Linked DNA regions of Homo sapiens. The protein of the gene in region 2 interacts with the protein of the main gene of each other region in a biochemical or structural test. Each region holds a gene or a part of one and is shown on either strand. Other genes may lie near its edges. The genes, in order: PARP1, SIRT1, EZH2, MAPK8, BMAL1, AFP and RICTOR.

Region 1 (4,337 bases), on a different chromosome or scaffold from region 2:
CCAGCCCTAAATTGGGGATTGGCCTGGGCGGGTCCTTGGCTTCGCTCTGGAAAGCATTTAAGAGCGAGCTCGTGGTAGAAGAAAGCAGCTTTATTGAGGCAGCAGTGTTATGGCTCTGTGACTGCTCCTGCAGAGCAGGGCTACCCCACAGGCACTGTGCTGAGAGCAGCAGCTCAAAGGCAGTTCTGAAGTCATATTTACACCCACTTTTAATTATATGCAAATTAAGGGGCAGACTATGCAGACATGTTAAGAAACGGGGTGGTAACTTTTAGGTCATCAGATTGTTGTCACAGAAAGGGGTGGTAACTTCCGGGTATTGCCATGGCAATGGTAAACTGATATGGCACACTGGTGGGTGTTTTATGGAAAGCTGCTTCGTCCCTGTCCCTGCTTTAGTTAGTCCTCGGTTTGGTTTGGTGTCTGAGCCCCACCTCCTACCTCATTCCCCTCTCAGAGATGAGCTATTCTTCCTTAATCTTAAGGGGGCTGCAGAAGGGTGCAGGTCTGAAACTACTCTGTATGATACTATAATGGCAGATGCATGTCATCATACATTTGTCCAAACCCATAGAATGTAGAGCATCAGGAGTTTCTGGACTCTGGGCAATAATGATGTGTCAGTGTAGGTTCCTCAATTATAACAAATGTACTACTCTGGTGGGAGGTGTTGACAAGGAAGAGCCTGTGTGGTGGGAGGGGGAGGGGGTACTGGAAACTCTTTGTTCTTTGCTTACTTTTGCCATGAACAAAAATAAAGTATATTAAAAACAAAACAACTTTAAAGGCTACATTCCAAGCACCTGGAAAAACAAAATACCAAATATCATGCAACAGATGATGCTGAGTCCAGGAGGTGTTGCTGAAATAACATGGGCACCATACGCTTGATCTGCACATGTGGGAGAGGGCAAGCTGGGGGAGGTTTGCTTTGCTCTCTGAGACGAGGCCCTCCTGGGAGCTTCAGGGTGGGGGCTGAATGCCCATGCTGCCCCAGTATGTACACACCTGTCACTCCTCCAGCTTCCGCTGTCTTCTTGACTTTCTGCTGGTCATCCCACCGAAGCTCAGAGAACCCATCCACCTCAACGTCAGGGTGCCGGATGGAGTGGCCCACCTTCCAGAAGCAGGAGAAGTGGTACCAGTGTGGGACTTTTCCATCAAACATGGGCGACTAGAAGGAAGAGAAACAGAGGGAAGTAAGTAAGCAGTTAACTTTTGACTTAGACCCACTAGACCTTGACCTTGACCTCGACCCCAGTCCCAGCCCCAGCAGTGGGATAGCACATGAAACTTTTGTTCTCCTATCTGTGAAAGGAGGACAGCCTCCGCTCTCACATGAAGAGCTGCAGCATCCTTCTCACGATCTTCCCCAAGGGTCAGAAGACTGTAGCCCACTGTTCTTGAGCTCATTCTCTTAGGACACCAAACACAGCCACGAGAAAGGTGGCCTTTTACCACTGAGCTCTGCCCCACGTCCCTTTTGACCACACACTGCTACATTTAGTGGTGAGCTGCCTCATGGCCTAGTGAAATGCACAGAAGACACTTGTGCAGAGTCACAATCCTGCAGCATCTGCTGGGAATGGCCAGACAACTGCTCCAGGCTTGCCTGGACTCAAAGGGCCTGTGTGCCCCAGAAAAGGGCTCTTTAAGTGCCTCTGCAGTTAAGAATAACAAGGAACAAGTCCCAGATAATGAGCAAAGCAGAGAAAGTGTGTCAGAAAAAAGTGTCAAGCTTGCAGCAGCCACACAGATGGGAGTGGAATGAATGGAGGTCTTTGAGGCAACTGTGACAGCGGATGGTTCGGGGCAGCATGCCTAGAGCTGGAGTCAGCTGCTCACTGGCCTTCTGGGGCGCAGTTTCCCAGGCGTAGGACCTGAGAAGTCTGGCCACAGGGAACACAGTTCCCCTCTCCAGGTGGTTTGCTTCCCACTAGGCCTTTCATTGTGACAGGGTCAGGTTCTGCTCCCAGGCCTCGAGCACTGTCTGGCTTTGTTTTTGAGACCGAGTCTTGCACTGAGTGCAGTGGTGCGATCTCAGCTCACTGCAACCTCTGTCTCCTGGGTTCAAGCGATTCTCCTGCCTCGGCCTCCTGAGTAGCTGGGACTACAGGCACGTGCCACCCATGCCTGGCTAATTTTTGTATTGTTAGTAGCAATGGGGCTTCACCATGTTGGCCAGGCTGGTCTCGAACTTCTGACCTCGTGACCCGCCCGCCTCGGCTTCCCGAAGTGCTGGGATTACAGGCATGAACCACTGCACCCAGTCCTGGCTTTACAGAGTGGACGGTGACAGCGATTGGGAAGAAGGGGAAGACACAGTATGTAGTGTGTGTCCCTGCTCCTTTCATAAGCCATCCTGTGTAATCCCACAATCTGCCTCTGGGTGGGAACCAGCCCTTTCATTCACAGATGGAGACAGTGGGGCTGGAAATCCTTGCCTGGGGGGTTGGGAGTCACAGAGGCAGCAAATGAATGATTTGACACTATGATTCCTCCCACCACACTCCACTGCCCGGCAGGAAGAGCTACTTAAAAATACACCAACTGTGATCTGACTAAAGTAAGGGAAGTCCCAAACATCTGCTTTTATAGAACATAAAGCTAAATGTCACACAGATGCAATAAGACTATTAAAACAGCATTAAAAGTAAATGTGCTGAATTTTTAGGATGGAGTTGCGGGGACAGGGAAAATACTCTGGAAAAGCAATGATAAGGTACCCCACTATCTCTCTCCACTGTGAGTGGCCTCTTTCTGGATGTGATGTATTAAAATGCACAGCTAAGACTATGGCAGCACAAGGACTCCTCAACATCAGCTTTCCCCTGGGTCTGGAATGCTCTCCAGCCCTGTTCAGAGCACTCCCTCAGATCTCCCAATGCTCCTTCCACAGCTCCCCTCACTAAGAACTATGCATTTGGTGATTATTTCATAAGGGCCTATCTTGCTATTCTCTAGCAACATGTCACAGAGGGCACGCAGTGTTTGCTTAGGGCTCCAAGTCAGATGGAACAAAAAAGGAAGGATGGGGAAATTCCTGCTGTAGAAGAGACAACAAATGGCATTTCTGAGAGCATACTCATGTTCCAACTCTCAAACGTTCCACCAGATCTCAATTAGGCTGCTGATACAGATCCCTAAGCATCTGGCTATCATGGAATATTTGCAATGGCCTCGACCTGGCTCTGCCTGCTTGTCTACCCCTTGTCTACCCTTCCTGTGCAATGTTCCAGTTACCCTTGTATAAAGAGCACAGGTAATGGCTATGGCACTTCTTCCTGGCTCTGCCAGGGGCCCCAGACCTGCTGCCCTTTGGTCTGGGTGCTGTCTCCCCCAACCACCGGCACAGTGCTGGACACCCTGGAGGTGCTGCCCAATGGTGCAATCACAGCACAAGCTTAGAGGACAAGAGCCTCAGCAGAAGCACCCCTGACCAAAGCAATGCTTTGCCCTAAACTCAGGACTGAGAATGATGTGGCAGAAAGGCACCAAACCAAGGTCACAAGACTATCGACTCCATTTGTTAGCTGCACAGCTGAGGCAAGGCACAGAATCTTTGGCTGTGCACCCAAGCAAAAACTGAGCACCTAACATACCAGGGTCCTCACCCAACCAGCAGCTGGTGAACTGGGTTCCCTTCTGTGCAGAACAGGCCATGCTACCTGTCCACCTAGGCCACAGAGAGAATGAACTGACCTCACTGCATGCCTCCGGGTGCTCAAACCCTCCCAGGACAGAGCAACTCAAAGGTCTACCGCCATCCTCCTCCCACCAAAATGCTGGAGGGCCCAGCTCATCCCTCCCAAGATGCCCCAGGCATGAGGGCTAAAGTGTCAGGTATCAGATACTCAGAGAACAATACTCCCATGTAAATGTAAAAGAAGGTATTTAAATTCAAGCAAGTGAAAAGGCTTCTTTCTTTTTGGCCTTCACCAGCTCAGTCTACCAGACCAACTTTAAATTCTGAATTAAAACTCTGAATCCACCCTTAATCACCATTACATAAAAATCACAGTTACTTTTAATAATAAAGAGTTTCTTTCACTATCAAGTATACCAAAGGAAAGCCCAGAATGTTGTTATTACTATTTTTTTTTTCAGACAGGGTCTGGGTCTGGGTCTGGGTCTGTCGCCCAGGCTGGAGTGCAGTGGCACTATCTCAGCTCACTGCAACCTCCACCTCCCAGGCTCAAGCAATCTTCCAGCTTCAGCCTCCGGAGTAGCTGGGACTTAACAGGCACGCACCACCACGACCCGCTAATCATTGCATTTTTTTGTAGAGACAGGTTTCACCATGTTGGCCAGGCTGGTCTCAAACTGCTGAGCTTAAG
Region 2 (3,500 bases):
TAAGCCTTTTAAGCATTTAGCCAACAAATTAAAGCAAATGCAACTTGAGAAGAAAATAAACCATTTCAACAAATTATTTTAAGTAGGGAAGAATTTTTTCTTTTTTTTTTTGTTTTTTTTTTTTTTGAGACAGAGTCTCACACTGTCGCCCAGTCTGGAGTGCAGTGGTGCGATCTCGGCTCACTGTAAGCTCCGCCTCCTGGGTTCACACCATTCTCCTGCCTTAGCCTACTGATTAGCTGGGAATGCAGGTGCCTGCCACCGCGACCGGCTGATTTTTTGTATTTTTAGTAGAGACGGGGTGTCACCATGTTAGCCAAGATGGTCTCGATCTCCTAACCTCGTGATCCGCAGGCCTCAGCCTCCCAAAGTGCTGGGATTACAGGTGTGAGCCACCGCGCCCGGCTTTTTGTTTTTTTTCTTTTTAGACAGTTTCGCTCTGACGCCCAGGCTGGAGTGCAGTGGTGCCATCATGGCTCATTATGGCCTTAACCTTTCCGGCTCAAGCAATCCTCCCACCTCAACCTCCTTAGCAGCTGGGACTACAAGTACGCACCAGCACACCAGGCTAATTTTTTGTAGAGTCAGGGTCTATGTTGCTCAGGGTGATCTCAAACTCCAGGGCTCAAGTGATCCTCCCACTTTAGCCTCCCAAAGTGCTGGAATTACATGCATGAGCCACTCCACCAGCCAAGAATTTCTATTACAGAGAAGTAATTCCAAAGAAATTGCTCCTTTAGTTAGGATTCTATTACCTCAATACTACAACAATTCTCTATTTTCATTAAAAAAAACAATGTATAGCCAGGCACGGTGGATCACGCCTGTAATCCTGGCACTTTGGGAGGCCAAGGCAGGCGGATCACAAGGTCAGGAGTTTCAGACCAGCCTGGCCAATATGGTGAAACCCCATCTCTACTAAAAATACAAAAATTAGCCAGGTGTGGTGGTGTGCGCCTGTAATCCCAGCTACTCAGGAGGCTGAGGCAAGAGAATTGCTTGAACCCAGGAGGCAGAGGTTGCAGTGAGCCAAGATCCTGCCACTGCACTCCAGCCTAGGCAACAGAGCAAGACTCAGGCCAGGAGAGGCTGAGACTGCAGTGAGCCATGATGACACCACTGCACTCCAGCCAGGGCAACACAGCAAGACCCTGTATCCAAAAAAAAGAAAAAAAAAAAAGGTGTATAATATTTCAATTCTTCATTTCTTTGAGACGTGCCCACTAATCGTACAAAAAAATCCTGACATTTCAAATAGAGATTTCAGAAGTTATTGTTTCATCATCTTACCAGAGTTGACTCCAATTTGACCTGGAGTCAAGGTCAATTTAAGTTAAACAAACTTGTCTACATCGTTATCTGTGAGCAAAACATACTCCTGATGATCATCTAAGATTATGTAACACCCTTTCGCAACTCGAAATGGCAGAAAACAGGACAAAATTTTACTACAGCAGTTGCTCTGGTTGCTAACATGTAATATACTCTGTATAAAACACACACTATGCAATAGTCTTAGGTAACTAATTAGCTGCAACCCTAAGGTAGATCAAATAGAAAATGTCAAGTCGCCACAATCACATCATCTTAATTAATATGGAGGGAAGGTAGGAATCTGTTACTCTTCCCAACACTAAGCTTTTCACTTGTGAATACCAATTAGGTTTCCAGTTTCTCATAAAGATCTAACAAATACCCAATTTCTCCATCAGACTGACATCCCTTAACAAAAGCAGAGTTTCAATTCCCTGCATCTCCTTTAGGAGCTATGATATAATGTAGGTAGAAATCTTGCCTTAACTCCATTTACCCACTGTGCTATAAATAAGCAGAAGCAAATATTTTTTTAAGGCTGGAGAGGTTTTAAAAATCTGAACTAATTTAGCAACTGCTGCTGCACTCAGTTTTTGGCAGTTCCCAAACATCCATTATCATGTAAGGATAAATCCTTCTAAACCAGAAAAATGTTTCCTACTTGGAAAAGGCATAAGAAAATACATATACGACCTCCCCATGTACTAGTCTTACATACCCCAGCTCCAGTTAGAACTATAATTTTTTTGCACTCTTGCAGTAATTTCACAGCATCTTCAATTGTATTAATATCTTTTCTTTTTTTCCTTTTTGGTGGTTCTGAAAGGATATTAATAACAATCTGCCACAGTGTCATATCATCCAACTCAGGTGGAGGTATTGTTTCCGGCAATAAATCTTTAAGAATTGTTCGAGGATCTGTGCCAATCATAAGATGTTGCTGAACAAAAGTATATGGACCTACAATAAGGGGGAAAAGGCTTAAAGTCAACTTATCAAGTAATTCAAAATCTCATTTATTTTCTGAAGTAATGAGTTAGCATTCTGTGAGGGTTTTTTGCAAAGTAAGAAAATGCAATTTAATGGTATTTCATTCTCGGTACACTCAGAATTAATGCTATATCCCAATGAGATTAGGAAGATCTAATGAAGAGTTGGGAAGACCCCCTTCAGCTGTAAGTATATATTTCAAGAGTCTAATTAATTAACAACCAGAATTAAGTTCTTATGGTTAATATCTAGAAACACACACCATAATACCAAAAGTATTTACAAAAGGGTTCTACGACATAGAAAAATCGTACCAGTCCTAAAAGCCTGTACTACTTATCATTAAAACCACACAGGAAAAAGAAATGAAAATCTATACATAACTGCCATCTTAATTTTTTTCCGGTAATTTTTCAATTTGATCTTAACCCATCTTCCAAGATAATACATACAATGTTGATGTTCTGAGAACTAATCATTTTCTTTTACCCTGAGATTGCTCAAACCAGCTCCCTAGGCTTGAGAAAACAAAAATAAATAAATAAATAAATTACAGACACCAAAGAGAAACTGATCTTCACTATGTTTAAATAATCAAGCCATTTGTAAGAGTGAGAACACAAAAAGATCCACTTTCAAGATGGTTATACCTTTGGTATAAAAAACTGATAATGCTTTCTACATCGAAATACTTTCCCATTTCATTCACATATTTATTAAATATTTATTGAGCACAAACTATGTGCCAGGCACTTTTTTAGGCACTGAAAAGACAGGAGTATACAAGTCAGTCAAAAATTCCTGCTCCCGTAGAACTTATATTCTAGACCAGGAAACAACACAATTTAAAAAGTAAGATACAGAGCTTTTCAAGAAGTGGTAAGTGTACAATAAAGTGAAAAAACAAGGAATATGAAGTGAGGGAGGAAGATATTCTAACCGGATGAAGAACACTACACAAAAAGGGGACAAGTGAGGTGGGGCAAGGTGGCACATGCCTGTAATCCCAGCACTTTGGGAGGCCCAGGCGGACGGATCACCTGAGGTCGGGAGTTCAAGACCAGCCTGACCAACATGGAGAAACCCCGTCTCTACTAAAAATTCAAAATTAGCCGGGCGTAGTGGCATATGCATGTAATCCCAGCTGCTGGGGAGGCTGAGGCAGGAGAATCGCTTGAACCTGGAAGGCGGAGGGT
Region 3 (4,337 bases), on a different chromosome or scaffold from region 2:
ACTCTGTCTCAAAAAAAAAAAAAAAAAAAAAAAAAATTTGGGTGAGCTGGTTCCAAACTGAAGCTAGGCCTATGATTTTTCGGTAACACTGTCGACAATTTAAAAGGTGAATAACTAATGACGTTGTTGTTTCTAGGTCCTTATCAACTAGGTTGTGGATTAAGCAGGCCACTCTATGGTAAAGCTCTTGTTCTCCCTGTTGTCCCTAGACGAGAAAAACTAAATGTGGCTAGAACCAAGCAATCCTGTTTTGTTTTGCTTTTTTTCCCCTCTGAGACAGGGTCTCACTTTGTCGCCCAGGCCGGAGTGCAGTGGCACAAACATGGCTCACTGCAGCCTCAACCTCCCAGGCTCTTCCAGGCTCAAGCGATCTTCCTGCCTCAGCTCCCAAGTAGCTGGGACTACAAGTATGCACCACCACGCCCGGCTAATTTTTGCATTTTTTGTAGCAATGGGGTCTTGCCATGTTGCCCATGCTGGTCTCCAACTCCTGAGCTCAAGCAATCCACCTGCCTCGGCCTCCCAAAGTGCTGGGATTGCAGGAGTCGGCCACCGCGCCCAGCACAATCCAGTTACTAAGCATGCAAATCCACAAACATGCAGAAGTCCAGGCTGAAAAGGCAGTTTATGGCAATTCATTTCCAATCAAACCCACAGACTTACCTAATAAAATCAATCTAAAATAAAGTAAAGTTAGTATATACAATGCCACCTGAATACAGGTTATCAGTGCCTTACCTCTCCACAGTATTCTGAGATGAATTCATTTTTCTGCACAGGATCTTTGATAAAAATCCCCCAGCCTGCCACGTCAGATGGTGCCAGCAATAGATGCTAGAGAATAAAACACAATCACATCATCAAAAAAGGAGGGTGAAAATGGACTGGGGACAAAGTAGACTACAGAATGAAAACAAAAGCTATCACTGTAAATCCTCAGACCTGTTTGTTCTAAGGCAGTAATTGGGCACACAGCTTCAGTCAACGTGAAAGCTGCTGAGAATGGCTATGAACATTATGTTTTCCTTATACAGCAGATAAGAATCTCTGTCTTACAGAAAACCTTTTGGTGGTGTTGGTCCTCTGCAATGACCATCGTTCAGCAAGGTGCTCTAGGCCTGCTGCACTTTTGGCTTCCCTGTATCTTCAGCCCTTGATTTCCTCGAGTAATTCACTTTCAACCTGAATTTAATATAAGGACACCACCAAATCACTCTTCCTCTCCATACCTTTCCCTCTACTTTCCCCAAGTGATTCTATTAATAGTTATTCCATTTTCAGCCCCAGGACACCCCCTGATTCTTCACTGGCGTTGGTTCCCTCTGAAGCCCATAGCAGCTTGGCTTTGGATTTGTTCTTCCACCCCACCTCCTCAGGATAACACAAGAAACTACCGGGAGGTGTTATCATGATCTTGTCAGTCCAGTAGTCTATTTTCAGCAGAAATGCCAAGATGATCATTGCTATAAATTATGTATTTAGGGATGTGTTCCCCAACATATGCCAATTTTTCATCACGGCTCAGTATTATGCTTTCATCCAAAATTTTCTTGTGACCTTTACAAAGGCTTCCTATCTATTCCTATTCTGGACCATCTTACCACTCACCTGTCATGTGAACTTCCCAAATAGCCTTCTGATCAGAAACTAAATTAGCTAAATACTGCTATGCAAATGAAACCCAACTGGTAAAAGGTATCTACATAGTTTAACATTTTTAAGAGTTAAAAAATGTCTTACAAAGAGGACATGTCAGTATGAATAGAATTGCCCACTTTCTGAACAAAGTGAGGAAGGAGTACAATGGTAAGTTGTTTGGGGGGGAAATTGAGATTTTTAGGTCTGAGCAGGTATGCCATCGGAAACGGAACCAGAGTCACTGTGATCCAATGACCTAAATGGACATATAACTGCCTAGAGTAAAATCATCTAAATGTCTAACAGAAAAGAAAAAAGTCAAAGCTAAAAACAAAAAGCCCACCACCCTGCACAACTCTCTGCCATAAACACAGACTTTGGTTCAAAGACACAAACAAAACCAAGAGAACTTCAATGTTTTGCCTGGAGCAGAATTTCTGGTAGAAGGGGACTTGCTGGTAAGAAGTGTGTTCTCAATTATAAATAAATGGTCCAACAACAAAGATATGTCTACTCTACACCCCACATACACACACACACACACACACACACACACACACAGAGCATAAGAGCAGGTTAATGGGAGCCTGGAGGATTTGATCTCCTGCTCCTTTACAAGTCTTGTGACTTTGGGTTTCCTTACCCGTAAAATGGGGGTTAACACTTACTCCTCACTCACAGGGTTAGGAGAATCAATGAACAAATCCACTAAAGCACTCACAACAGTGCCTATTTTTACATGCTTAATAAATGTCAGCTATTATTATAAAAAGAACTGACTGAAGAAAGAACTTATCATCTGCCCTAAAAAAAAAAAAAAGATACGAAATTTCCCAAATACATGCTGCTGAAGTGTCTTTTGCTCAATCATTACTTCCTGGCTGATAGAGTTAACTCACCTACATACAATTCCCCAGACTAAAAATATATAGTTCCTAGCTGGGTTTTTTTCAAGGTTATTAAACAAACAGGAAGTAAGTCTATAAAAACCTGCCATGGGAAATTTCATCTTTTACTCTACATAGCAAGGAATCTATAAATACTCTTTGATGAGAATGAGTCTATATTTTGATAGAAATCACCATTTATTTGCATTAAGGATACTAGATAAACTATTAACTAAAAGACAAATTCAAATAATCTATTAAACAGGTAGAAAAAATACCTCTTATTCCTAAATCTGATACCATGAATGGCTACTTCTCAGAATTTGCTGGTTTCTCCTACTATCAGAGTATGGTGCTCTATATAAAACTGAAGAGACTGCCCAAGGGTGCATTACCCAGAGAAAATTATGAACACTTTCTCATCAGTTGCACCTTTCAAGGATCACTTTTACTTTTTGCCCCAGCTAAATCATCTAAGGCAATCCTGACATTTGCATCACTAAATAGCTAACTACAAACAATCTTCCAGAAGTGACTTGTTGCTCACCTTTTTGGAGCCCCGCTGAATACTGCAGTTCTTGCAGGACACATTTTTACTGTCCCAATGGTCAGCGGCTCCACAAGTAAGACAGAGGTCAGGGTCACACTCTCGGACAGCCAGGTAGCACGGGCACTGCTTGGTGTTGCACTGTGCTTTGCAGCGGCATCCCGGAAAGCGGTTTTGACCTTCAGAGAGAGGTTTGGAGGTTCTTCACTCATCACCGTATGCAAAAACTTGCAGAAAGATACGTGGCAAGGGCTGTACTGGGCATCTCACTGACTCTCAACCCTCACAACCACCTTATTACCCTACTATATAGACAAGGAAATGGAAGTATTAACAGCGAAGTTATAGCTGTTTGCACTGAAAAAGACCACCACTGAGTTGTTTTTCCATTTTTCATTTGTTAAATAGTGTATATATTTAAAGTCGGTGTGAATAAAGGGTCTGGATGGAACAATATCCATGGTCCTTGACCATTCCAATAGCCCCTAGTTCTAAACACTCCCTTAATACCCAAGCTTCATGTGCAGTCTCATTAAACAATTATAAAAATCTACTATGTTTATGCTACATTCCTTTAATCTGAAGACTAAAACCCTCCTAACTCTGACGATTTCTGGTGCCCAAAAATTATTTGGGTAGCTCCTTCTAGATTCCTCTTACAATCTGTGCCAACTTTAATACAACTTAATTTAAATGATCAAAGAAGAAAAAAATAAAATTCAGGTTCCTTTAATACAACTTTGCCTGCCTCACACACACAGACACACAACACCCAGGCGACTGACTGGCCACTGGCACAGGGCCAGGTATGGGGCTCAATAAATACTTGTCAAATTGATGAGTTTCGTCAAGTAAACAAGGGAGTGCTCCCATGTTCTTATTTTTGATTTTTTAAATTGCTAACCAAAGACCTATTTAGTTCTCATGCAATTGCATCAAAGCAACAAATACTTACACTCTGAACTACATTGACAAAACTTTTCACAAAAATTTTGTGCTATCACACAAGGGCACGAACTGTCACAAGGCTGCCGTGGATGATCACAGGGTTGATAGTTGTAAACATGGTTAGAGGAGCCGTCTGAGTAAAGATAACATCATGCAGGCCAATGAATCCAGGGAGATGGAAACGATCATACACAATTAACACGAGTACATTCTTCCCTACTACCTGTGGAGTGTAGCTGGCCTGCCTTTACTGAATGCATAACATTACACATATTCCGGTTTCCACAACGATGGCAAAAAATACTCTCCCACCCCCA
Region 4 (4,337 bases), about 19 Mb from region 2:
GCCTAAAATGTAGTTTCTAAAGGTCAAAATGTATGATAGCACTTCAGTTTGGTCAGGTATAATGTATTTTGTCTCTCCCTAATATATTGTTAAATTACTCTTAAAATACCACCTACTATTTGACATAGACTTTTCCTTCCGTTATTTATTGTTTCATATGTTAATTCTGAACCCTGCTCAATTGTAATTATGCACAATTACTTGCTGGCTTTGAGTTGATTTAACCTAAATCAAAAATCATGGCTTGCATTAAAAATTTATAATAATTATACACTTAAGTCTAGAAATACGTACAACTTAATATGAATTTTGGAGCTGTCTGTTGCTTCTGGCCATCCTTTTGTTTTGTCCCCTACCTCCTTTTTGTTAATGTTCTGTGTGGTTTGTGTCTTTTGATTGTTGTCTCATTACTCACATAACATACTGACCCTTTCATCTGAGAATTTCAGCAGTAGTAGTTTTGTATGGTAACGATAGCTTTGGATTCATACTTTTTGTTCATCCCACTACTTTTAATATTTATATTAACAGTGATTTGTTATGTGTTTACCAGCTAGTAACACTTAGAATTGTTTCAGGAGGAAGAATGGGAAAAGGCATATTCACAAGGTTACAATAAGTGAGTTTTAGGCCTTGGCCTTCAGGGTCCTGGAGTGTAAAGACTAGAGGAAAGGAGACCAAGAAATCCTAACCTTACAACTTAGCAAAAAACTGAATCTTTTTTATAAGGGTCAGAGCTTTAGAAAATTTTTTTAAACCTAAGCTAAACAAAGAATGGCAAAAGAAAATGCCACTTTTATCGAAGCCTTTATTTTTATTACAACTGATTATTTTCTGTTAGTGTAGAAAACTCAGTAAAACAGGATGTGTTCTAGAAATATTGTCTAGGAGATATAATCATGTTTTCTGATAAATTGACAGAAAAGGAAAAATTTTGTATATTATTATAGCATTGTGTGCAGTTTGCAGTTAGAGCCACTATGGATAGTAATTGTCATTATTCTTAGTTGCTTATCATTTTATTTAGAATTTGTGAGTTTAAGCTTCCATTTTAAGGTAAAATCAGTTAGTTTGAACACACAATAAATAAGGTTAATAAAGCTTATTTATTGATCATTTCTGTCCACCTACAATCATTGCCTTTTGCAGGGTGCCTGTGAGATATAAAATTTATAACTGCCACATCCTTTCTTAGGAATTTTTAAATTTCTATTTTCTTGTAATATGAATATGACTAATGTATTGAACATTAGTTATGGAGTATTTTTCTTAGCTACTTGATATTAGATATTGATCAGTGGAATAAAGTTATTGAACAGCTTGGAACACCATGTCCTGAATTCATGAAGAAACTGCAACCAACAGTAAGGACTTACGTTGAAAACAGACCTAAATATGCTGGATATAGCTTTGAGAAACTCTTCCCTGATGTCCTTTTCCCAGCTGACTCAGAACACAACAAACTTAAAGGTACTTTTTACAAATATGTACATTTAATCCCATTTGGGGTGTGTAGTGTGTGTGTATGGGTTTGTGTGTTTATATGTATTCATATTCTTATGGGACATGAACCCAAGGTTTTCTCTGGATGGTGGGGAAAAAAATGAGGTTTTTGTTTTTTTTTTCTTTAATCTTATATATTTTAATCATATGTATAAGATAATTTTACAGTAATATTTTTAAAACATATGCTTTTTAAAAAATCTCAAATTGCTGAAAGTTATTAATAATTTGAGAATCTTTACAAATATATGTACATTAACACCATTATGTTTGCAGCCAGTCAGGCAAGGGATTTGTTATCCAAAATGCTGGTAATAGATGCATCTAAAAGGATCTCTGTAGATGAAGCTCTCCAACACCCGTACATCAATGTCTGGTATGATCCTTCTGAAGCAGAAGCTGTAAGTTATTTTCTTAATGTTTACAGAACATATTGCATTCTTAGAGTTAGAATGACAGTTAGGTTTGGAGGAGACCTTTTAATTTTAAATAAAAATGTAGATACATGATGATGATGTTTTTCTGTTTCTTCATGAAGACTACGTCAAATAAACTAATGAACATATTCGAGCCCCTCCTACACAAAATAAAGTTACCTCCCACTGTTTTTTGCAATCTTGCCTGGATACCTAACCAGAGAACTAGGATGTTGAATGCTCTGGGGGAACATCCTAACTCAGGTATAAAACAAATTACTGTATCCAAAGGAAAACAGAATTCTGTGATCTGTGATATAAATAAAATGTGGCAATTTCAAGAGCTAGAAGAAAAGAAAAAAGACAGTTAAACATTTTATTTCCTGCAATGAAGGAGTCTTCCTAAACTATTATGTCTGTATAAGTAAGTTGATGATTGATCAGTCTTGATCTAATGATATATTTTTATAAGTCATCTGTGTGGCTAATATTTCAAATAACTACAGAGTTAAAATACTCCCAGCATACTGACTTGGTTATTATTGCCTTGTGTTTTTCAGCCACCACCAAAGATCCCTGACAAGCAGTTAGATGAAAGGGAACACACAATAGAAGAGTGGAAAGGTACATTCGTCAGATTCTTAGAGGGAAAACTGTGAAGGAGCTTCTGGTTTTTATATGGTGATTTATTATCATGTTAGAGAAATTTGTGACTTTAATATGCATAACCGAAATGTGGTAATATTAATATTTTTACATAAGTAGAAAGTAAGTCTGCTTCCTTCCTTAACTTAATCTTAAGTTCCCAAGTTTCCCACCCCAGACACAGACACATTAGTGCTCTGTCTCATATTTTTTTCCATGGTTTGTGAATACACAAATGTGTTTAGTGTCTCCCACCTCTCCTCTTCCACCCTTTTAAAATCACGTATGGTTGTGTACGGTGTATGCTATATGTACTTGCTTTGTTTATTTATTATATATTTTTTTGAGTTGGAGTCTCGCTCTGTCACCCAGGCTGGAGTGCAGTGGTGTGATCTCGGCTCACTGCAAGCTCTGCCTCCCGGGTTCACGCCATTCTCCTGCCTCAGCCTCCTGAGTAGCTGGGACTACAGGCGCCTGCCATCACACCCGGCTAATTTTTTTGTATTTTTAGTAGAGACAGGGTTTCACCATGTTAGCCAGGATGGTCTCGATCTCCTGACCTCGTGATCCACCCGCCTCGGCCTCCCAAAGTGCTGGGATTATAGGCGTGAGTGCTTTGTTGATATAATCAGATATCTGGAAGGTTATTCTCTTTTAGTTCACGTATCTGCCTCTCTTGCTTTAATAACTGGTTAGTGTTCTGCTGTATGAATATGTCACACTTTATATATCCATCTCCCTCTTGGTGACCATTTAAATTGTGTCCAGTCTGTTGCTGTTAGAAACAACTCTGCAATATTCATGTTCACATATGAGAACATGCCTGGAAGAAAAATCCTGGAAGGAGATGTTCTGAGCCAAAGATATTTTTCAGTTATTTCCAAATTACTCTCCAAAGAAATGGTAGTAGTGTACACTTCCGTCCATGTTATATAGGAGTCTCTCTTTGCCCTCACCCTTGCCTACAGAATGGGTTAATTTTTAATATTTGTAAATCTAATGTAGTTTTATTCTATTTTATGAATGTGGCTGAAATTAATCATGCTTTGATAGTCATGGAAGTTTTCAAATATTTCTTCAAAAGGTGCCCTGGGACATGTGGGTCAGGTAATTTTTAGGTCCCGTTTACTTCCATTTGTGTTATTGTCCTTCAGTGTTTTGACCACTTTTGTAACTGCGTGACTTTGAGTAAATCACTCCCCCTTCATCTCACCCTCCTACACTGCCCCCTGCATTTTACCTCATCTTAAAATAGAGGCAGAAGACCTGTTATTAAGAGTTGTCTCTAAATCCTGGGAAAGGAAAGGGGACTGGGGAGGTATAAACATGAATAAGTGACCCATCTATAAATGTATTTTGCTAAGCATGAATTTGATTCTTTCTTAGAAATTGAAGAGATTTAGAGATTGGTTTTCTCTGAACTTTGGGAAACCCATGGTTAGCAGAGCCCGTGATAAAGTTAGAAGAATGACAAAATGATAAAATTGGATAGAGTCTGCTGCATTTGAATATGTAATGTGCATTTGAATATGTATAAAGATATAGCTCTGTACTGAGTATGTATGAAAACATTAACCTAATATTTTTACATCCTACTAATTTACAGTAGACGATGAAGTATTTTGTAGAATCTTGTGGTTTTTTTGGTTGTTTTTTTTGTTTGTTTGTTTTTTTGAGACAGGGTCTCACTGTGTCCCCCAGGCTAGAGTGCAGTGGTATGATCATGGCTCACTGCAGCATCAAAACTCCTGAGCTCAAGTGATCCTGCTGCCT
Region 5 (4,337 bases), on a different chromosome or scaffold from region 2:
TATAATGTTGTGAAGGTGAGATGAGACAATGTATATGAAAGTTCTTTGAGTAATATTTAAGCCTATACTGGACTGATAACCTTTCAAAACCAAGAAGTAGAATCCTTGGTAATACCAGGAGTCAAGTCAAGTGCCTAAAAGTTAACTTAAGAAGCAGAGACTGGAAGACCACCCTAAGAAGATGGTGGATCCAATATGCAGGAAGGACCTGGAGGTATAACAGAAGAACAGCTAAGAAGACAGCTGGCAAGCAGTGTGTGTGTTGTGGGCAGGGGGGCGGGGGTCACGGGACACCAAGCTCAGACTTCATCTGTCAGTGGTATTTTGGGCCAAGCACTTTCACATATATTATCTCACAGTAGGACCTCGTGCAAAGATGCTGGCTACCCTAACCATTATTAGCTCCATTATAAAGAAAACTAGGGCTTGAAAGTTGTACAAGTTCACATAACTAGCACATGGCAAGGCCAAGCTTCGAACCCAGGTCTTACTTTGTAGTCTTACCCATTAATTTGTTAACTTTCAACCTTTTTTGGGGGGAGCAAAACGCTTTTTCAAATAGAAATGTTTGCAGAAGATTCCTGTATAAAAAAGAAGTATTGCTGCCCTTGTAGAAGCAGGATTTCTACTCTTACCCTCTCTCCTTAGCAACTATCCCCACGCCCATCCCACCTGGTAACACCACAGCTCTTGGTAACCTGAACAAACCTCCGAGGAGCTCAGTTTTGAAAATCCTTGCCCTGCTTTTGATGGTTTGTGCCCTAGGAGTCCTGCCTATGGAAATTCCTGATATTCTCTCTCTCTGTTTTAGGAGATGGGGAAAGGAAGCCATTGTGTCCAAAATGATGGCCTTTAAACTGTCCTAAGCTCTACTGGCATCAGGCAATATAAACAGATTTATAATTTACGATTAAGATGGGCCTAGGCTTATAAGTTCTCCAGCAAAGATGAAAACAAATGACTGGTTCCTAAACCTATTTATAGTGTAGTCTTATAGCAAGCTCTTCATGAGGGCTGGTGATTGATCCACTGCTTGGATCCAATGCTGTCACACCAATGGAACCCCCAGGCAGCAGATCCCCAAGTATTCTGCAGCTATAAAGCATGGCTTGATTTCCAAAGCACTGCTGGTGGCATTGCTGTTTCCATTGCCTGCCCTAGACACTAATATTTTCTCCCTTGAAAATTCCTGGCAGAAAATGAGAAACTTTTCTATGTGAGGTACTCAATAATCTTTCCCTCATGGGAACTCTTGAATTGCTCCCTCAATTAAATGAACTGACAGTTCCCCATTCCTTATTCTTTCTCCCTTCTTCCACTCACATGGAAGAAAGCCTCTGAGGATGTCAGCAAGCCTCCCTAGCCCTACCAGTATGCTTTGTATCCAGCCTCACACAGATGCATTTACTTCAAGGAGGAAGTAGTCCAAATTGTTTCAGCAATCGCAGTTGCAATTCCATACTCCCACCCCCAACATTTCAGATCTTGGGCAAGAGGTTCTCTAGCTTAGGCTAAGAATCATCAGTCTTACCTTCTTGCCTCCTGGAGAAGAGGCATCAGGGGGAGGCGTACTCGTGATGTTCAATGGGCTGGAGCCACAGCTAGAAGGCGATGACCCTCTTATCCTGTCAGAAAAGAGAATTACACTGCCTTTTCTTTTTTCAGTGGAGTGTATGTGCTTTGTTAAGGGGTAAAGGTGAGAAAGGGGATGAAGATCTAGATTAGGGTTTGGCAAGCTTTTTCTGTAAGGGGCCAGATAGTAGGCTCTCTAGGCCATATGGTGTCTTGTCACAAATGCTCAACTCTGCCTCTGCAGCTTGAAAGCAGCCACAGATACGAATCGGTGTGGCTGTGTTCCAATAAAACTTTATTTACAAAAACAGATGACAAGCTGGATTTGTTCTACAGGCACCTGATCTAGAATGCAGTCCCTAGAGTCAAGCATCTCACTGACAAAGCCCTTGGATTGGAGTTTGCATTCAGTTGGTGAATTTCAAGTAAGTGGCCAGTTTTATTTCCTCACAGAATCCAGGTGAATTGGAGGAGAACTTCTAAGATCAACCTCCATCTTTGATCCACAGAAAACAATTTGTCCCCTTCTCCACAAACACTGTTTAGCTAGTGAATACTCTTAGGACATGGACGGCACCAGGGTCTAAAAGGTAGCCTAGTAGTAGTGACAGGAAAAGCAGCCTTCGAAGGCAGTGGTTGATGAAAAATGGGTCCAGGCCTTTCTTATCTAGCATATCTCTCAGAAGATTTATAGAAGGGAAGACTTAGAACTGTAAATCCACCTAAATACTTGTCAGGCTGAAGGACCTCAGGAAAGAATCCATCACTTGGCATTGCAGCTACAGTTTAGGGAGAGTGTGATGGCAGTTGTGTAACCACAGGACTCTCAGCTCCTACATGGATGAATGTAGCTTTTGGGTGACCCAGAGACCACTCCTCCACCACCCAGAAGTCTTTTGGTTCTTGTACTGCCTAGTTCTCTAGATTTATGAGTGAACAAGTTTTCTTTCTGGATTAGAAGCTTCTTAACGGCAGTTTACAACTACATATCATGTATTCTCAGCATGCACAAACGGCTGCTAATTGCTTACGGAAAAATTGCTGAGTGTCCCCCACCTTTCTCTACTTATGTCTATGAAACCACTATTTTCCCAGGTTTCTCATCTTGGAATTGCTGTTTCATCATTCCTGATTTCATCTTCAAACGCTAGACCTTAGATGATTGATTTCTCTTTTGGCAGTGTCATCTCTGTAGGATAAGGCCTCATTCCTGAGTTGTCAAACATGCCCACCTTCATCTCTCCCTATTCCAATGCAACTTCCACAAAGCGTAACACAAGACTTTGGATGCTTGTTCAGCATCCTACAACAAATGGGGTCTTACAGGTTTCTTCCAAACTGCACAGTATCATTTCTTGTGTTTCTTAATCGCCTATCATAGCTCTGTGTCTCCTTCCTACACAAAGCCTGCCCAGTTAGGTAGCTTGTTTCTTGACCCTGAATTTGCCACTCACATGCCCACTCAAGAATAGCCCTGGCTTTTCTAGAGGGAACATCCACTCTTATTGCAAACCCTGGCTAAGGCCAAGTTCAAATCTTTCCTCTTTTGCTTGCTTTGGCCCATGCACCCTCCCTTTTTCCTGTTATCATAAAGAAAATAGACTTATAAAAGATTTTAAAATTCTTGAGGTCAAGGACTGTTTGATACTGTTCTTGGATGGTCTCAAGCAAAATACAGGGTATGCAAATGCAAAGTATAGGGTTTGAACCTGATTACACTGCACACTACCCTCATGTCTCCTTCCTGATGCAGAAGTCACACCCACTAATCCTGTGGGGTTGGAAAAGAGCTGTGTTACCTATAGGGGGATAACAGCCCCTTTATGGCCAATTGGAAAACAGGCCAGCCTCTAATTCTCCTGAGAGAATCCAGCGGCAGCAGTGTTTTCTTCCTTTTCTTATGTTACATTAAGTTTCGTTCTGAAGAATCTGGTTACCACCTTCTCTATTCCCCAAATTTGGACAGACTTATGATAACTGCTTCCCTCTCGACTGCTCTTAAAGACAGATTTAATTAATTTTTAAGCACTCACTATATGTCAGGCTGTGTTCCTGGAACTTTCCTGAGTGCCCTCACAATCCTAACACAATTCTTGGGAAATAGTGCTTTCTTTTTATGGTTTAAATCAACAGAGAGCAAGAGGTTAAGTAAGTCTCAGCATAGCCAGGTAGAGAGACAGGCCCAGGACTCAGACCCAGGTGGACTGCTTCTAAGCTCCTTCTCTTTCATATGGAAAGGAAGTCTCTCCCAAGACAGCTAGTAATAACTAGCTGATCTGCTTGGTTTCTAGTACTAATCCTGGGCAGCTCTTTGATTGAAAAAAAGTGAATGTTTTGTTAAGGTCCAGATCACTCTGATAGTTCACAGCTCTACTCCTGCATTCCTGTAAAGTAAAGGTACATCTATCCGCACTGAGAAGCTCCTTGAGCCATAAGAAAGTTAAGTCTTCTCAAGAATTCTCTTTAGCGCTGGGCTATTTTGGTTTAGCTTCTTTATTTAAGGCAGGATTTCTTAATCTAGGCACTACTAACATTTTGGATTGGATAATTCTTTGTTGGGTGGGGAGGAGGGAACTGTCCTGTTTACTGTAGGATGTTTAACAAGCAGCATCCCTGGTCTCTATCCACAGGATGTTTAAGTAGCAACCTCCCACCCAGTTGTGAAGACCAAAAATGTCTCCTGACATTGCAAAATATTGCCTGGGGGAAAAAATTTCCCTGGGTTGAGAACCACTGGTTTAACAGAGGAACTAGAAGGTGTTACT
Region 6 (4,337 bases), on a different chromosome or scaffold from region 2:
GTTGTGCAGGTTGTGGATAAAACACTATTTCATACTTGACCATACTTATGTGTAGTGGAAGGCAATCTCCCCTCATCCCCCAGGAATATCCTTTCCTGTCCGCTCTTCTTAACTGTGTCTTATCTACACTCAAAGACCCAGATCTCCGAATCCTGCCCATCCAGTTATCACACCCCTTATCTGGGCACTGGCAGCACTAATTGCCTGCACTGCTCACTTAGCAAGCCTTTCATGTTGGACTTAGACCAGAGCAATAGAAAGTAGACCAGAGCAATAGAAAAAGCTTGCCAGAACAGGCAACATTCTTATCATACTGTGAAACATACCTCAGACTGTGATAGAGGAAAAAAGAGAAGAATGGGTTTTCCAATGAAGGAAGACTATTTACAAAACAAGTGAGGATTAAAATGCATGGGAGTTTGAAGAACATAAGCTCCATTGACTTGCATGACCATCACCATTACAAAAGAGCTCCCACAATGAACTGAAATGTACATGTCATTTCTTAACACCCAAACTGCATGGTTGAATTAAATAAGATGGTTATTCTCTTCAAAGTGTAAATAGTGTAAAAAAAGATTCAATGATGTGTTTCCTGTGCTTGGAATGGAAGTACCCAAATTTGCTGCAAAGATACACTCTAATTCCTCAGAATAGATTGCCCACTTTTCCTCAACCCCCAAATACATATCACAATAACAGTTACAACAGAGATTATTTTTACAAACAGGAAATTGTCCACCCTCGTCAATTTTTCTAGACCTGCTTCCCCAATGAGACTGTGAAGACACTGAGACAAAACTATTTTCAAAGGCATTTTAAGTGTTTTGGGAGTAACGCTCTGTTAGTGAGCCCAATAGTGTTAGGTGAGCGAGGTAGAAGTCTCAGTTACTCTTTGGGGTTGTCATTCTTTTCCATGCTAGCAAGTAACAGTTTCTTACTCTTGCTTCATTGTTTGCAGCGCTACACCCTGAGCTTGGCACAGATCCTTATGGAAAATGAACTTGTCATCAGAGAATGCAGGAGGGACATATGTTTCATCCACCACCAAGCTGCTGAAGCATGGCCTCCTGTTGGCATATGAAGAAGTGCAGCACTGGCCAACACCAGGGTTTACTGGAGTCATTTCATGTCTGATACATAAGTGTCCGATAATAATGTCAGCCTGGTTAGGAGAATGAGAAAAAAAAGTAAGGAGATTGGGCATTAGTCACAAAGTTGGTTCAGTTTTTCAGAAAACTGCTGCAATAATTTCTAATGCCCAGCAATTTATAATTAATATTACAGGAAAATTTGCTATGTAGGATCATGTGACATTATATTGTAAATTCCAGGATTTACCCATTTGTTTGGGCTAAGCCTTAGCAAGTAGTAGCAGATGGTCCATATGTGATGTTGAGGATAGTCATTTAGCTATTTGTGTCAGCTATTTGAAACATGCTTCCAGTTACATACACACTTCTAAAGGACAAAAATGTCTCTGCCTTTATGTTTCCCATGTGTATTTAGTTGAACTTTCCATTTTTCTTTTGATAATCACTATCTGAAGGTAAGAATAGCACAAACTTACCCCTTTTATTCACATACATATACACATGTATACACTTGCAGCTAATATATCATCCTAATTGAAAAGAAGTAAGAGCAATTTTGTGGGTTTTTAAGACTTTCCTAATGTAGAATCTTGCTACCTTGCCTACTTAGGAGATATTTCTTAATCACCTAGTAATAACTTGTAATAAGAAATAATATGTTTTGTGTGCACTTTATCTGTCAGACTAGTGCTGTGTGAGTTATGCAGATTATCTTGTTTAAAACAGCTGTCGTATGAGGGTGGTATAATTTGTATTCTCAAATGTCAGATGAAAAAACTCAAGCTTAATGACATAAGTTGCTTTCCCACTGTGATACAACTAAAGAATAGTGAAAGTAGAATGCGGTTGTTGGCTGGTGGCCTCCGGAACATACACTCCTGAACCATTACACCATCCTGCATCCCTGCAGCCTCCCAGCATGGGAAATTCAACAAACAATTGAGGTGACATTTAATCACAAGAACTCTCCTTTTACTCTTAACCTTTGGGGAAAAAATGTATGACATGAAGACTAACAGCAAATAACTCCCCATTATGAAAAAGAGGAAAAAGGATAAAATAGACAATTTTGTTTGCAATTATGACTTTATAGGAAAAATATTTTTAATTCATCCTGTAATCTTATGTATGATACTAGTGACATTAGGAAGTAAAGAATATTGGCATTACTGACTCGAAAGTCATTTTACTATTCAGAACATAATACTTATCCTGTGCTGTACCCTATACCCTGCGAAAGGGAACCAATTATTCCTGATGTCATAATAATAATATCATGTTACAAAAGGTGAAAATATAAATATGGCTAAAATAGCATGACTAATTTTAATCAATCAAAGATAAAGCTTTTTTAAAACATCAAAGTAAGTATATGAACAAAAAGCAGAAATTATGATTTGAAGTTATGAATTATGAATTGTTATGAATTATGAGTTACATGTTGGTCGTTCTGTCTTTCCGATATATAAAGTTGGCTCAGATATTGTTGACTAAACTGGCTGAACTTCCACCAGCCACCCTGGAGGAATAGGAAGCATGGCCACATGCCAGCCATCCAGAGCTGGGTTCTCACACCCCTCCAACCGTGACTAATCAAACAAGCCTCCTAAGGCCATCTCTACATTGGTTTTTACCGTCTTCCCTAGAGGGGAATTATGAGGCTATTTCAAGTCAAACAGGGCAGAAATGAGATGGGACCAAACCAAGCAGACACTCACCGCTCCCTCGCCACAGGCCAATAGTTTGTCCTCACTGAGTTGGCAACAAGTGGCTGCTGTGGCTGCCATTTTTCTGGTGATGGCCATCAGCTCCGACGAGGTCAGCTGGGGGGCTTTCTTTGTGTAAGCAACGAGAAACCTGAAAGAAGCATTTTTTAACTAAGTCCTGCTGAGTCATTCATGAGTTTTTAGCCGCCTTGCTTCTTCTCACAGACTCTCTACTCTCATGCCAGAAGACATGAGGTCAGCTCGTTTGTTTCATCTACATGGTATTTGAACCAACTTTTGAGATGCATTTACTCTAACAACCACTCCCTGTACTCCTATTATAGAAGCATATCACAATGAAAAAGCAAACTCCAGGAGGAAGCCTGACTTGTATTCTCAACCTCGGAGCTTCATTGATTTTAACTGTGATCTTTTGGTGCTTTAACTCGGACAGACTATGACAGAATGGATATCTTTACTGCAAAAATTTGCACAGTATGGGGAACTTAAAGTCAATACCACAGATCAGACCTCACAGGTCATTCTTGTTGCTTCCAAAGGAGGAGAATGGGGAAGGCTACATTCTCTTTAATAATTTTAATTCACTAAAAATACTGTTTACAAAAACATACGCATTTTGTAAGTAATATTCTCCTAGTTTCTGGAAGAGGCCGCAGCTTCGCTTTGCCAATGCTTGGCTCTCCTGGATGTATTTCTGTAATTCTTCTTCCTGAAAATGAAGAATTATTACATATACATTTTTCTTTTCTTGGATGCATAACTTTGTATATAAAATTGATCAATATTATATACTATTATAAAACCAATCAGAGATGTTTAAATATTAAATATGGTAAAGTGTAAATTTTGATAATTACAGAAAATGGATTTTGGGGAGATTAAGTTTAACATTTTATAAATCACAAAATCATTTAATGGCAAAACTCAATCTTTGGATAAATGGTTACAGTTCTTTCTGTACCAAATTCTTGCCTTTCTGAAGTTATCCAAAAATGAATAATGAATACTACCTTTATTTGTGGATCAAAGGACTTTTGGTTAACATTTTTATTTCTACACTTGATCTTAGCCAAAAGGCTGAGAAGCAATTAACATTTTTGTTTCTAAAGCAAGCCACTAGCTGCTGACTGCTAGTTAATAACAGCTTAATATCTAGACAAATAGATATAACTGGCTAACAACTAGTTGAAAACTAGAGGCTTTCAAACAAACAGCATTTTTAACAGATGATATCAATCCAGTTTTTCATACTCCCCTAAAATTCTAGAGCAACTTACTCCTTTATCTTGGCATTCAAGAGGGTTTTCAGTCTGGAAACACTTCTCCAATAACTCCTGGTATCCTTTAGCAACTCTTAGAATTACTGAGACAGCAAGCTGAGGATGTCTTCTTGAATATTCATGAACAAAACTGAAATATGTGGAGAAAAATATTTCAAGTTATTGGAACTAAGAGACAAAAGGAGCCATCACTTCTCCAGTTATTCCTATATAATATGGCATGTGGAAGTTAAATT
Region 7 (4,337 bases), on a different chromosome or scaffold from region 2:
TGAACTTCACTGGTAGTTAGGTTGATTAGATGAGGACGCATTTTCTGGGTATTTTCAAAATAAGATGGACAGAATTTGTGGGCTGATTGGATACAGTAAATAAGAGGTCCAACTTGGCTCATAAGGTTTCTAATTTAATGACAATATATAATGGATCACTATTAAGAGATCACATTTATAAAAAGTGATTCAAGATTAGGCTAATGAATTTTCAATATGTTGAACTGGCATTGTCTGTGCAGTAACCACGTGATGGCTTGAAAATGTGGATCTGGAGCTCAGATTTGTGAGGAAAATGGCAGATATGGGGGTCATTAGTATATAGTACTAGTTGAAACCTGAGCCAAAAGCTTATGGATATGATAGAACATTTGCATTCATAATACCTTGATCTGTCTACCCTTTGCTAAGTATCTGACATATTTTAAATTTAGTGACTCATTGTGATACTATGTGCAATTAAAACAATATTATCCTCTAGGAATACAACTCCAAATATGTTGACTTGATTGAGGAACAACTCAATGAAGCACTTACTACTTACCGGAAGCCTGTTGATGGTGATAACTATGTTCGTCGGAGTAACCAAAGGTGCGTACCCAGTTATCAGATTTAAAACTAGTTCATCATAAATTATTTTTAACATTTCTGAGTTTTTGTATATTCTGCTTCTAACATGATATAGGAAGAATCTTAATGCGCAGCATTAATTGCTCAAAAATTCAGTGGCATTCATGGCATGTTGAATATCCTTACTGATAACGCATTCACATATACTCCATGCTGGCACCCCAGTCTGTATTTCTAGGCCTAGATTCTCTTACCAGTACTTTGAGCTCTGATAAACTGTTACAGGTTGAACATCACTTATCCAAAATGATGAAATGTTTCGCATTTCAGATTTTTTCAGATTTGGAATATTTGCATATATATAACGAGATACCTTGGGAATGGTACCCAAGTCTAAACATGAAATTAATCTGTTTCATATACGCCTTATACACGTAGCCTAAACATAATTTTATGCAGTGTTATAAGTAATTTTCTGTATGAAATAGTTTGCATTAAATACTAATGTGTGGAATTTTCCACTTACAGTGTCATGTCAGTGCTCAAAAAGTTTTGGATTTTGGATCATTTTGGATTAGGGAAGCCCAGCCTATATTTTACCTGAGAAATCCTCATTCCTTGTTACTTTCATATTTTTATTTATGCTGGAGAGTTGTATCTAATTTTATTTATCAAACATTTATTAAAATTCTTTTGTTCTAATTAGCATATTTAAATTAGCCAAGAGATATAGTAATCATCTTTATTATACTAGATTACAGCGTCCTCACGTCTACCTGCCTATACACCTTTATGGACAACTAGTACACCATAAAACAGGCTGCCATTTGTTGGAAGTACAGGTAAAAACATAATTCACTTATTTTAAGTAGCTACAATAGTAAAAAAAAAACAAAATCTTAACATTGCTAAAATATTACCTTTGCAAAAACTTCTCAAAAGCTTTAATATCAGTGGTGTAATTGCTTTTAAATTCATCTATTTTGTAATTGACTTAGGCATTCTATATTTATTAACCTGAGAAATATTAATGGCCTTGCAATGCATTAACTGACTTGTGTATGACTTTTTGAATAACTAACTTGTTATGTAGAGTAAGCAATCCAATGAAGATCTGAGTTCTTTTTTTAGAGTTTAGTGGAGAAATTCAGATCTCCAAAAACGTACTGAAAAACCGAGTTTTTCTTCCACTCATTGGGAAATTAAACTGAACCTAATACAGATTAAGTTATCCTTGTTGAGCAATAAATTGAAAGTTGCTGGTTGTGAGCACATTTTATTCTCGCGTACTTCATGGAATGTTAACAAGCATAGGCAAGCAGTTGTTCTTTGAGTTATAATATGTACACCGCATTTATGGTTGTGAATATGTCATGCAACTGTTTCCAATAAATGTAACGTTTCTCTTATTTTAGAAATAAAGTTATAGGAATATTTGTTTTTGTGACAGAACAATAGTTATTTAACAATTTAGTTCCCGATTGTATCAGTATTCATCTCAAGAGCACAAAGTTTTGCATAAATGTACTCTATAGTTTCATGTGTTTTTATATTACGTCTGTGAAAACTGTTGGGACAAGTATTTTCATATTAACATTTGAAAATTTCACTAAAAATTTAAATGATTTTCTCAGTGTTACTACTTACATAGTATGATAAAACCTAAGCACTAATTTACTTTCTGTTTTAAAGAATAAGTATGATTATTTAGTAATACTAAGTGCCAAGTACTTTGGTAAGCACTGTATGTGCAATAATTTATTAAATCTTGAAACCTTATGATGCAAATGTTATTATCACTCTTCTAGATATTAGGAAATCAAAGGATGAGGAGATGAAGTAACTTGCCCAAGGCCATGCAGTTAATAAGTGATAATTCTAGAATGTGAATTCAGAACCCCTGCCCTATGCTGCTTCTCAAGAAATTTTACATAAAATTATTTAGAATTTAAATATGCAAAAATGACAAAAAACAAACGTTATACTGGTTTTATGATGCAATAATAATATATTAAATACATAAATATATTATTACTCATGGTATTTTTTTTTCTTTCTCCAGAATATTATTACAGAACTCTGTCGTAATGTTCGTACACCAGATTTGGATAAGTGGGAAGAAATTAAAAAACTGAAAGCATCTCTTTGGGCCTTGGTTTGTAATAAACACTTCTGTAAGATCTTCGCAATTTTTAGATTTTTAAGTTTTTTTTTCATTTATACTAAATAGATAAATATTTTCTTTGGAACTACTTATTAGATTAATATTTAAGACTGGATTGTTCCTGCCAATATAAGTGTATTATCTCTATGTTGAAGAATAGATGGTTGAACTATTGGTTTCATGACTTTTGTTTTGTTGCTAAGACAACTAGAATTAATTCATGCCTAATGTTTTGTACTTGAGGAGGCTTTTACATTTTTTCTCTCTCAGAGATGAGGTTAAATTTGTTTCTTGGTAGCTTTCCAAATCTTTTGAAAGAGTGACTCTTATATTTGATGTAAGTGATTTCTTTTCTTTCAGGGAAATATCGGCTCATCAAATTGGGGTCTCAATTTGCTACAGGAAGAAAACGTGATTCCAGATATACTAAAACTTGCAAAACAGTGTGAAGTTCTTTCCATCAGAGGGTAGGTCATTTAACTCAGAAATCTTTCTAATGTAGACGTTGTTATTCACAAATGGATGTTAGGGGAAAGTATTTTATGATTAAGTGCAATGCATAACTGTTAATCCACTGAAAGTTCTAATGATACAAGATTATTAACTGTATTAAGTTAAACATCTAAACGAACTCCTTGTTTACTACTATAATTTGATTTTTATTATATTGAAGTTTACCTTGTAGGTAACAGGTAAGGCATAGTGTTGTACAGATACTCCAGTATTCCTGTAACCCAGCTGTTCCAGATTTATACTAGAAAAGCTAATATACCTTTTTTGCTCATGTTGCATTGTGTTCTTTTTATTTTGTTGTAATTACTATTTTTATTGGGAAGGTTTGCTTGTTTTTTATTGCTGCTAATTTATTCCTGACTAGTCTTAATAAGTTTTTTTTTTTCCACAAACGCAACCATTTTGGTGGGTTTTAGAGAAAGTTCAAAGTATGTATAGCAAATTAATCTGTGGTGGCTTTAAGAAATCTCAGCTTGGAATTATAACTGTTTTTACTGCATCTTTTATATACAGGACCTGTGTATATGTACTTGGGCTCATAGCTAAAACCAAACAAGGCTGTGATATTCTAAAATGTCACAACTGGGATGCTGTGAGGCATAGTCGCAAACATCTGTGGCCAGTGGTTCCAGATGATGTGGAACAACTCTGTAATGAACTTTCATCTATCCCAAGCACTCTAAGTTTGAACTCGGAGTCAACCAGCTCTAGACATAATAGTGAAAGTGAATCTGTGCCATCGAGTGAGTATCCTGACAGGTTCATATAAAGTTAGCCAATGTTAACATTTATATTTGAATTTTAGAATTTAAATGTATTTGTTACATTTGTAATTTGCTTTTGTCTAAGATAATTATTTGGCAATAATAGCCTCTTGGAGAATGTGTATATTTTCATAACAAAGAGTATAATCACCAGCTTACATTTTTCTCTCTCCTTATATTCTAAGTAGCTTTTGAGGATTCCTACAAAGTTATGTAATAAGCCATGTGCCAGAAGAACCAGTCCTCCTTTTTTTGACAGAAAAGAAACAAATATAACAAGTATTTATTTGTCTACCTTCTTTATTTAATCTTTTTACTCATTTTTC

What was found.
Region 1: the proteins of SIRT1 (region 2) and PARP1 form a complex in vitro, tested with the Homo sapiens proteins (one study listed by BioGRID).
Region 3: of the proteins of SIRT1 (region 2) and EZH2, one has a biochemical effect on the other in vitro, tested with the Homo sapiens proteins (one study listed by BioGRID).
Region 4: of the proteins of SIRT1 (region 2) and MAPK8, one has a biochemical effect on the other in vitro, tested with the Homo sapiens proteins (one study listed by BioGRID).
Region 5: of the proteins of SIRT1 (region 2) and BMAL1, one has a biochemical effect on the other in vitro, tested with the Homo sapiens proteins (one study listed by BioGRID).
Region 6: the proteins of SIRT1 (region 2) and AFP form a complex in vitro, tested with the Homo sapiens proteins (one study listed by BioGRID).
Region 7: of the proteins of SIRT1 (region 2) and RICTOR, one has a biochemical effect on the other in vitro, tested with the Homo sapiens proteins (one study listed by BioGRID).

What each region holds. Positions count from the first base shown.
Region 1 is NC_000001.11:226,401,206-226,405,542, forward strand, and holds part of PARP1 (poly [ADP-ribose] polymerase 1), read right to left. Parts: intron 1,175-4,337; coding exon 1,009-1,174; intron 1-1,008. UniProt on the Homo sapiens protein: Poly-ADP-ribosyltransferase that mediates poly-ADP-ribosylation of proteins and plays a key role in DNA repair.
Region 2 is NC_000010.11:67,887,656-67,891,155, reverse strand, and holds part of SIRT1 (NAD-dependent protein deacetylase sirtuin-1), read right to left. Parts: intron 2,275-3,500; coding exon 2,033-2,274; intron 1-2,032. UniProt on the Homo sapiens protein: NAD-dependent protein deacetylase that links transcriptional regulation directly to intracellular energetics and participates in the coordination of several separated cellular functions such as cell cycle, response to DNA damage, metabolism, apoptosis and autophagy.
Region 3 is NC_000007.14:148,810,887-148,815,223, forward strand, and holds part of EZH2 (histone-lysine N-methyltransferase EZH2), read right to left. Parts: intron 4,154-4,337; coding exon 4,028-4,153; intron 3,252-4,027; coding exon 3,073-3,251; intron 835-3,072; coding exon 739-834; intron 1-738. UniProt on the Homo sapiens protein: Polycomb group (PcG) protein. Catalytic subunit of the PRC2/EED-EZH2 complex, which methylates 'Lys-9' (H3K9me) and 'Lys-27' (H3K27me) of histone H3, leading to transcriptional repression of the affected target gene.
Region 4 is NC_000010.11:48,424,601-48,428,937, forward strand, and holds part of MAPK8 (mitogen-activated protein kinase 8), read left to right. Parts: intron 1-1,287; coding exon 1,288-1,470; intron 1,471-1,779; coding exon 1,780-1,904; intron 1,905-2,479; coding exon 2,480-2,543; intron 2,544-4,337. UniProt on the Homo sapiens protein: Serine/threonine-protein kinase involved in various processes such as cell proliferation, differentiation, migration, transformation and programmed cell death.
Region 5 is NC_000011.10:13,378,449-13,382,785, reverse strand, and holds part of BMAL1 (basic helix-loop-helix ARNT-like protein 1), read right to left. Parts: intron 1,626-4,337; coding exon 1,532-1,625; intron 1-1,531. UniProt on the Homo sapiens protein: Transcriptional activator which forms a core component of the circadian clock.
Region 6 is NC_000004.12:73,449,229-73,453,565, reverse strand, and holds part of AFP (alpha-fetoprotein isoform 1 precursor), read right to left. Parts: intron 4,232-4,337; coding exon 4,099-4,231; intron 3,531-4,098; coding exon 3,433-3,530; intron 2,952-3,432; coding exon 2,813-2,951; intron 1,166-2,812; coding exon 942-1,165; intron 1-941. UniProt on the Homo sapiens protein: Binds copper, nickel, and fatty acids as well as, and bilirubin less well than, serum albumin. Only a small percentage (less than 2%) of the human AFP shows estrogen-binding properties.
Region 7 is NC_000005.10:38,951,849-38,956,185, reverse strand, and holds part of RICTOR (rapamycin-insensitive companion of mTOR), read left to right. Parts: intron 1-481; coding exon 482-591; intron 592-1,324; coding exon 1,325-1,412; intron 1,413-2,632; coding exon 2,633-2,725; intron 2,726-3,094; coding exon 3,095-3,201; intron 3,202-3,760; coding exon 3,761-3,990; intron 3,991-4,337. UniProt on the Homo sapiens protein: Component of the mechanistic target of rapamycin complex 2 (mTORC2), which transduces signals from growth factors to pathways involved in proliferation, cytoskeletal organization, lipogenesis and anabolic output.